2 linked regions of the Homo sapiens genome follow. The protein of the gene in region 2 purifies or fractionates together with the protein of the main gene of each other region. This does not show direct contact. Each region holds a gene or a part of one and is shown on either strand. Other genes may lie near its edges.

What was found.
Region 1: the proteins of PLEKHA1 (region 2) and MSL3 purify together in Homo sapiens (affinity purification with mass spectrometry; 2 studies listed by BioGRID and IntAct, with this or other methods). This does not show direct contact.

What each region holds. Positions count from the first base shown.
Region 1 is NC_000023.11:11,755,858-11,759,774, reverse strand, and holds the start of MSL3 (MSL complex subunit 3), read right to left. Parts: upstream 1,539-3,917; 5' UTR 1,512-1,538; coding exon 1,410-1,511; intron 1,194-1,409; exon of another isoform or gene 1,068-1,193; coding exon of another isoform or gene 1,002-1,067; intron 129-1,001; exon of another isoform or gene 1-128. UniProt on the Homo sapiens protein: Non-catalytic component of the MSL histone acetyltransferase complex, a multiprotein complex that mediates the majority of histone H4 acetylation at 'Lys-16' (H4K16ac), an epigenetic mark that prevents chromatin compaction.
Region 2 is NC_000010.11:122,412,474-122,416,390, forward strand, and holds part of PLEKHA1 (pleckstrin homology domain-containing family A member 1), read left to right. Parts: intron 1-446; coding exon 447-572; intron 573-3,385; coding exon 3,386-3,529; intron 3,530-3,917. UniProt on the Homo sapiens protein: Binds specifically to phosphatidylinositol 3,4-diphosphate (PtdIns3,4P2), but not to other phosphoinositides. May recruit other proteins to the plasma membrane.

The sequences.
Region 1 (3,917 bases), on a different chromosome or scaffold from region 2:
TCCCACAAATGGCAGAACATACAGAAAATTAGAAGTTAGATCAGGAAAACTAATTCACAGACCCTTTTTTAAAGAAAGCATTCTCTCCTCTTTTAGACCGACAGCCGGGTTGAAATATTTTTCCTTTCATTTTTTTCCCCCAAGTGGACGCCTTCAAAATAGGAAACATCCGTCCAACCACCCCGTGATTGGTCTCTGAGCGTGAGACAGTGTGAGGCTTCTGAAGCCATTGGCCAGCCGATTTGTCACTAAGGAGAGACTCCAGGCTAGATGAAAGCTGCAGCCCTGAGAGCTCTGGGAGTTGTAGTCTCCTGGGCTCCCCTATGTCCAGTGCCAGGATGGCTAGCTGGAGACTCTGGAATCCCTCCCTGTTGTGTCCCTAGAGGGAACAACTAAAACTAATGATGGGGCGTGCCCCCCCCCCTCCGCCCCGAGGAGGCTGGAGGGCGAGGAGAAAGAGGGATAGCAGACGCGGTTAAAAGACAGGAGCAGCAGGGGAGGGAACTGAAGGCAGAATATGCTCATCCCTTTAGGGATGTCCTTTAGCATCTCTAATGGACAGAGCTGTCCAGACATCGCCAAAGACACACCTGGGACTGCCCCTGTCCCTGCCGCCTAAGGCTTCGCCCAGGTGGCCCTAGGAACCCAGGTCTCTGAAATGAAAGCACCTGGGTGCTTTCCTTGGGGATCTGGGAGACCTGGTGCCAACTCCTGCCCGCCACCCAAATCTGAGGAGCTGCAAGATGTGGCTCAGCTCCCGGAGACTTAGGTGGACCGGCCCGGGGCGCGATTCCCATCAACTATGGTCAGACCCACGTAAATCCTTCAGAGTTTGAAAACGTAAATGCTGCAAGGCCCTGGGGTACGAAAACACTGGGCCAACCTTGCCCTCGGGATGGGGTTCACGGCCTACAGGCGGGATGGGGCCTAAACTGGACTAGGGTCCCAGGGACACAACGTCGCAAGTCAGCGGCCAGCGCCGTGTAACTATGAATTAGAACCTGGATCGGACGGCCAGGGCGTCCCACAGGAGCCCACCCGGCACCAGGCCGCACAGAAGGAGACATTTAACGCGAAGACAGAAACCGTATTCGAGAAGCCTCCTCCCTCAGCGGCCACCGTTGCAGTCGGGGGCGCAAACGGTAGCCCCGGTAACGCGACAAAGCATGGGCGAGGCTCCCAACCGCGCGTGCGCCGCCCGGCCTGACGGAAGGAAGTGGAAGCATCCCAGACCCCGCCCCGACTCCCGGGCGTAGCGCCCTGTGAGCGCCCCCTGCCGGCCGCACCGCTCCTCGCAGGCCGAGGAGCCCGGCCGGTCCCTCAGCTCCGCGCGGCCGTCCGCCCCCGCCCCCGCCCCCGGTCCCGGGTCCCCCAGCCCGCGCCTCCTCCCTGTCCCTCCGCGGCGGCACCTTGGCATCGTACAGCACTCGCGCCTTGGTGGGGTCAGGCTCGAAGCACAGCACTTTCTCCCCTGAGTGGAATTTAAATTTCATGCCCTCGCTCGCGCTCATTTGCTCATCGTGGCGGAGGGCGAGGCTCCGGGGCGGGCGGAGCGCGCGCGGTGGGGGAGGGCGGGCGGGGGCGGGGAGGCGGTGCGCCGTGGCCGGGGGGGGCCGGGAATGGCGGAGGCTGCGGCCGCCCCGCCCTCGGCCCCTCCTCCGCCCGCCCCGAGCCGCTGCCGGGACCTCGGAGGCGCCTGGCGCGCGCGCTCCCGCCCGGGCGCGTCCCCGCACGTCCCCGCCGGGGCTCCGGGAGGGGTGCGGGCGGGGAGCGCGACCCCCTGGCCAAGGTCTACCGGCAGGACGTCTCCCGTCGCCCCCATGGGAGAGGGTCCCCGCGGCCTCCAGGCTGCGCCCACGTGCGCGCAGGGTCGTCCGTCGCCCCGAGCGCCCGCTCTCCGGCCCGGGCGTGGGAGGCGCCTAGGGAGAGAGAGAGCCGGTCTGGAGTAGGCACCCGGCGGCCGGGAGGCTGGACGGCGTCTGCCCCCAAGAGCTCCCTGGCCGTGCGCGCCGCGTCAGCCCCCTTGGCAGAGCAGCGCGCCGATGAGTGTGGCCACGCTTGGAGAACGCAGCGCTGGAGCTGGCCCCAGGCGGGCAGTGGCCTCGGGCGAGGGCAGAAGGGCACTCCGGGCTGTGAATAGAACACTTGCTTATCCCTTCAGAGGACAAGCCGGTGGCAGGCCTGGAGCCCCCAGTGACGGGTTGAGCAGTGGGCAGCGAGGCAGATGGGTCCTTAAAGAGTAGCTGACGTCTTCAGTGTCAGCTTCTAGCGTGGCCTGACAGCCCCCAGCATCCCCGGAATGCCCCCCACGGTCTATCTGCTCCAATAGACTAAAAATTCCCTAAATAGAAGCACCCTTGAGGCCGCTATCAATATGGTACCTGCACAGAGTGGATGTTAAGTAAATACTTGATGAGCGAATGACAAGTGATGGGAGACTTGAAGGACAAACTTCCAGGGACAGGAAGGACAGTGCTGGGCTTTTTCTTTTGAGTTTTGGAAAGCCGTTGGGCAGTGTAATTACTGGATTAGGACCGGGCTGGAGACCAGCTTCCAGGCTAATCTCTGCGGACCTGGTGAACTTCCCCTTCTCTGTTCTAGCCTCCAGAAAGTTGCATTTGCTTCCCCTCTGCACGCTTCCTTCACCAGGTTCCTGGTATACATCCTTCACATTTCAGCGTGGGCATGCCAACAGAAAAGCCCTCAGGCTTCCCAAGATGAATCATAAAGCCCTGAGGTGTTCCCTCCCAGGACTCTGCTTAACCCCTTTCTTGCATGTACCACTGTGCTATAGAATGGGTTGTTCATTTGCAAAATGACCTCATTAAGACAGTAAGCTCTTTGAAGCTGGGGGTAGGGGTCTTATCCAATTCATCACGGCGTATTCGTGGCACATAATATGGAATGAATGAACAGATTGATTTAGGAAATAGAACCCACAAAACTCAGTGGCCAATTGGATGTGAAGGAGAGGGAAGGAGGAATCTTGAGAGACTTCCAGGTTTTCTGGCCCAAGGAATTGGGTGAGTAATAGCTGCATCCGCCAGAATAAGGCTATACAGAGGAGTTAAAGGTTGGGGGAAGATGGTCAAATGGCCTTTGGGGTAATACGGTGCAGAAACTAGAACTGGAACCATGATTCCTCTCCAGGTTGTGGTGTATCAGAGATGAGAACAGTAGATGGTGGTGTTCCCCACAAATGGCAGGGGCGGCTTGGAAGCACATGTAATTGCACGTCCTGTGTAAACCGTAACTGAAGTATTCACCTTTTTATTTTTCCTGCCCATGATTGGAGAGAGTTCTGCTGCAGGCTCTACCCTTTCAGGGATAGGATTTTAGATGCTTTCCTTTGTTTCTCCGCATTTCCACCCCTTCTTATGTCATTGAGGAATTCCTCTTTCCCCGTCCCTCTAAAAAGTCCAAGAATGCAAAAGCCTTCAGGAACCTAAAAGTTAAAAAGCCTGCCAATGGCAGCACCCCTTACAGTCCTCCTCCAGATTAGGATCCACTAGAGAGGGCTCCACCCTTAATGCAGGACATCATTTTTCCTCTCGGGTGTAAAGGTTAAGAACATGGCCAGCTCTGCAAACCACTCTCCAGGACCCAGTCCCATGCTTGTCACTTTCTAGCTTGTGACCATGGACAACTGGTTAGTCTCTTTGTAATGCACTTTGTTCATGTTTAAAATGAAGGAAATAGTGGCTCCTACTTCATAGGGTTTTTTAGGAGTCAATGAGTCAATTCAGTGTACATGGCTTTGTGTAGTGCCTGACATATAAGGGCTGGGTAAATATTTGCTCTTGACATTAGGCATTTCTTATCTGTTTCTCCGTGTCCCCCATTCATTCATTCATTCATTCAGCAAATATTTATTGGACCTCCTGTGTGCTGGTTGCTAGACACACAAAGTAGAATAC
Region 2 (3,917 bases):
GCAAAGAGCTGTAAGCCAATAGTAAGTGTGCCAATAAACAGGGTCTAGAGCACAGCAGTTGGGCTTGGAAGAGTTACACACACTTGGCTAGAATGTATTATAGTCAGGATCTGAATCTATATTCCCTAATGCCCCTGAGCCTATTTCCTTACCTCTTAGGTGGGGGTAGAGCCCCTATGCATAGGGTAGACAGGAGTAGTAAAGGAGAAAAATGTGTGAACTAGTACCTGCCCGAGTAAGCACTCATTACGTGATAGCTATATTATAAAATATTATTCTAACAGAAAAATTAGTGTGATAACTTAAGGAGTACATACATGGACTATAATTTTTATATGTATCTGTCAACCGTATGCAAACGGATGAATAATTAGAAATTCTGCGAGAAAACAGGTTCACATGTATAATGCTGGTTGCAAAATGATTCATTTTATTTACTATTTCAGGTACCAAAGCAGTCAGACTCACAGCCTAATTCTGATAACCTAAGTCGCCATGGTGAATGTGGGAAAAAGCAAGTGTCTTACAGAACTGATATTGTTGGTGGCGTACCCATCATTACTCCCACTCAGGTAATTAAGTAACTCTTCTATTGTGTGAGGGTCTAATTATTGTATATTGATTTTTATATTATTAAAACTAAAACAGTGCATCTTTGCTTAATTGGTATAATATACAATTACTATAAAATATTTTTGTTTATTTCAAAAGTATTTATTATAAAAAATTTGGAAATTACATAACATTTAAAACTTCTCATGATTTCTCTGAGCCTTTCTTCATGTACTTTTCACCTCAGAAATGGAGATATGAGTTGTATATTACATTTTGTAAACAGATTTTTTCACTTGTATCATGAACATTTTCCAAGTCATCAGAAATCCTTTTATATCATTTTTAATGAGTGCATAGTAGTTCTTCCATGGATTTACCATAAATTACAAATCCTCTATTGGACAAATAGAGTTCCTTTTCCTTTTTGTTTCTTTTACTTTATAAACAATGCTATGATGAATATTCTTAAAGGAGAAATTCCTAGAAATAAAATTGCTGAGTCAAGAGTTTGCAAGTAGTAATTTTTAAAATCTATTTTTTCTACAACCTGGCCTAAGTGAGCTAAACAGAAGACTGGAATTTTAACTAAGTTATATCTCAGAAGTACTAATATGCTAAATTAAGTCTTTATTTGAGTTTTAGGAAAAATATAAATTTACATACAATTTTTGATGAAATTAAAACTCTTGTCTGAGCTTGAATTTCTTGTTTTGCTATTGAAAAGGATGAATTTGTAATGGATATTAAGTTACTAGTAGTTGAGAAACCAAGAATTTTAAAGTAATCAATTGGTATTGCCAAGCTTGGGTATTTTCATTACCAGTGTGCCTTTTGAACTCAAAAGACTTTGACACTTTATAAATCTTTTAAATCAAATTGTATCATTCCCCACATTTTTCAGGTCTTTTGCTACGGGAGGGTGATTAGTGGGATTAGAAATCTTACAACATTAATTAATTAATTAACTATTGAGTGCTTTCTTTATGCTTGGCAAAGGGTATGTTAATGAACAGAAATTCCCTGCTGTCATAGAGCATACATTTTCCACCAAAGTTGGATAAAAAAATAAGCTAGGATTGTGTGTTTACTTTTTCCAAAAGTAATGATTTTAAACTGTTAACCTTCTGGTTACTATGTACCTAGATTAAGCTTCTTTCACTGGTATTATGACCTATGTTGACATAAGGGGTAAGACTATTTTCCTGTAGTTGTGTTAAGACACTGTATTAGTTTGTATCTGTGGCTGTTTTAATTTTGTCTAGAGTTAAGATTTTGTTGCATTGTAATTTTGGTATAGATATTTCAGTAGTTTCTAGGATTTTATGGAGGGTATAATTTTATTGCATCATTTATTTTGTAGTATAGTTTTAAAAATTATAAAATAATATATGTCTATCATAAAAGGCAAAAATTGGTAAATTGGACCTCATCAAAATAAAAAATACTTGCTCTATGAAAGACCTTCTTAAGAGGATGAAAAGAAAAGCTACAAACTGGGAGAAAATATTTGCAAACCACATGTCCAACAAAGGACTTTTATCTAGAACATAGAAAGAACTCAGAACCCAACAGTAAAAAGCCCAAGAAATCCAATTAGAAAATTCATGAACAGATATTTCATCAAAAGATAAAAGATAAACAGATGGTAAGTAAGCACATGAAAAGATGTTCACCATCATTAGCTAGCAGGGAAAAAATACAAATTAAGAGCACAATAAAAGATCACTGCACACCTCTCAGAATGGCTGAAATAAAAGTGACGACACAAATGCTGCCAAGGTTGAGGAGAAACATAATCTCTCAGGTGTTGCTGGTGGGAATGAAAATTAGCCACTCTGAAAAACAGTTTAGTGTTTATGTTTTGTTTTTTTTTTAATAATAAAAGTAAGCTTGTGATTACTGTACAACCCAGCATTTGCAGGACTAGGTGTTTATCGTAGAGAAAGGGAAAATTACATTCACATAAAAACTTGTGCATGAATGTTGATAGCAGCTTTTTTCCTAATAGCTAAAAGTGGGAAACAACTCAAATGTCCTTTAATGGGTGAACAGTTAAACAACTGGTCATCCATCCATACCATGGAAATATAGCAATAAAAAGGAATGAACTCTAGATACAAGGAACAGTCTGGACGAATCTCTAGAGAATTATGCTGAGTGAAAAAAGATAATCTCAAAAGATAACCTTCTGTATGCTTCCATTTACATTACATTTTCAAAATGTCAAAATTATAGTCTTGGAGAACAGATTAGTGGCTGCCAGGGGATTTAGGGGTAGGAACTCTAAAGTTCACAAAGGAGCCTTGGGGTGATGACCAATTCTGGGTCTTAAATGTGGTAGTAGTTACACAGATCTACACATGTGATAAAACTGCATAGAACTGTATAGACACACATAGATGAATGTATGTAAAACTGGTGGAATCCGAATAAAGTTTGTGGGTTGTGCCAATGTCCATTTCTTGTTTTTTGATAATGTTACGCCGTTTCCCTTTGAGGGGAAACTAGTGAAAGGGTACATAGGACCTGTTGTACTTTTTTTGGGCAGCTTCTGGTGAATCCTTATAATTATTTCAAAATAAAAAGTTAACTCCTTCCCCAAAAAAGAGCACTGGTGGCAGGACTTGTGCAAAACAAGAGGAATGGAAATTTGTGCTTTAATCAGTGACAGGAAAATTAAGAGTAAGTATCTCAGATTAATTAGAAAACTCTTCAAAAATCTGTTTCTGACTAATCTAAGGTGGATTTTAAGATTTTCTACTGGGATAATATGAAATAAAAGTATGCTAAACAAGCAAGAAAATAATTTATTTATTTTGCTTCATTTTAGAAAGAAGAAGTAAATGAATGTGGTGAAAGTATTGACAGAAATAATCTGAAACGGTCACAAAGCCATCTTCCTTACTTTACTCCTAAACCACCTCAAGATAGTGCGGTTATCAAAGCTGGATATTGTGTAAAACAAGGAGCAGTGGTGAGTAGCTTAACAAAATACATGAAATAATGAAAAAGGATTACGTTCTAGCAAACTCAAATTAACATGGAAATTGTTTGCTTTATTTTATGAAAGACCCAAAGTGAGAGACCGGCATGCTGAGGAGAGTCAGGAGATAAAATAGGGGATATTCTCTGTTTATAATTCAATGCTGTTATTTGCTTGGTTTGCAGGGGGCCAGGAAAGTTAATGCCCATTACCACTGACTTTCAGTTTAAATGAGCTTTCCTAACAGTTTAATGTTTTAGAAAGTGTTTCTATTCATCTTTACTCATACTCAGGAGTGGGTCAGGGAAAGAGAGCTGTTGTGGGGAGATGGCAGGCCAGCGGCAGGAGAAGGAGTGGTGCCTAGGAGGTCTCTTCCTTG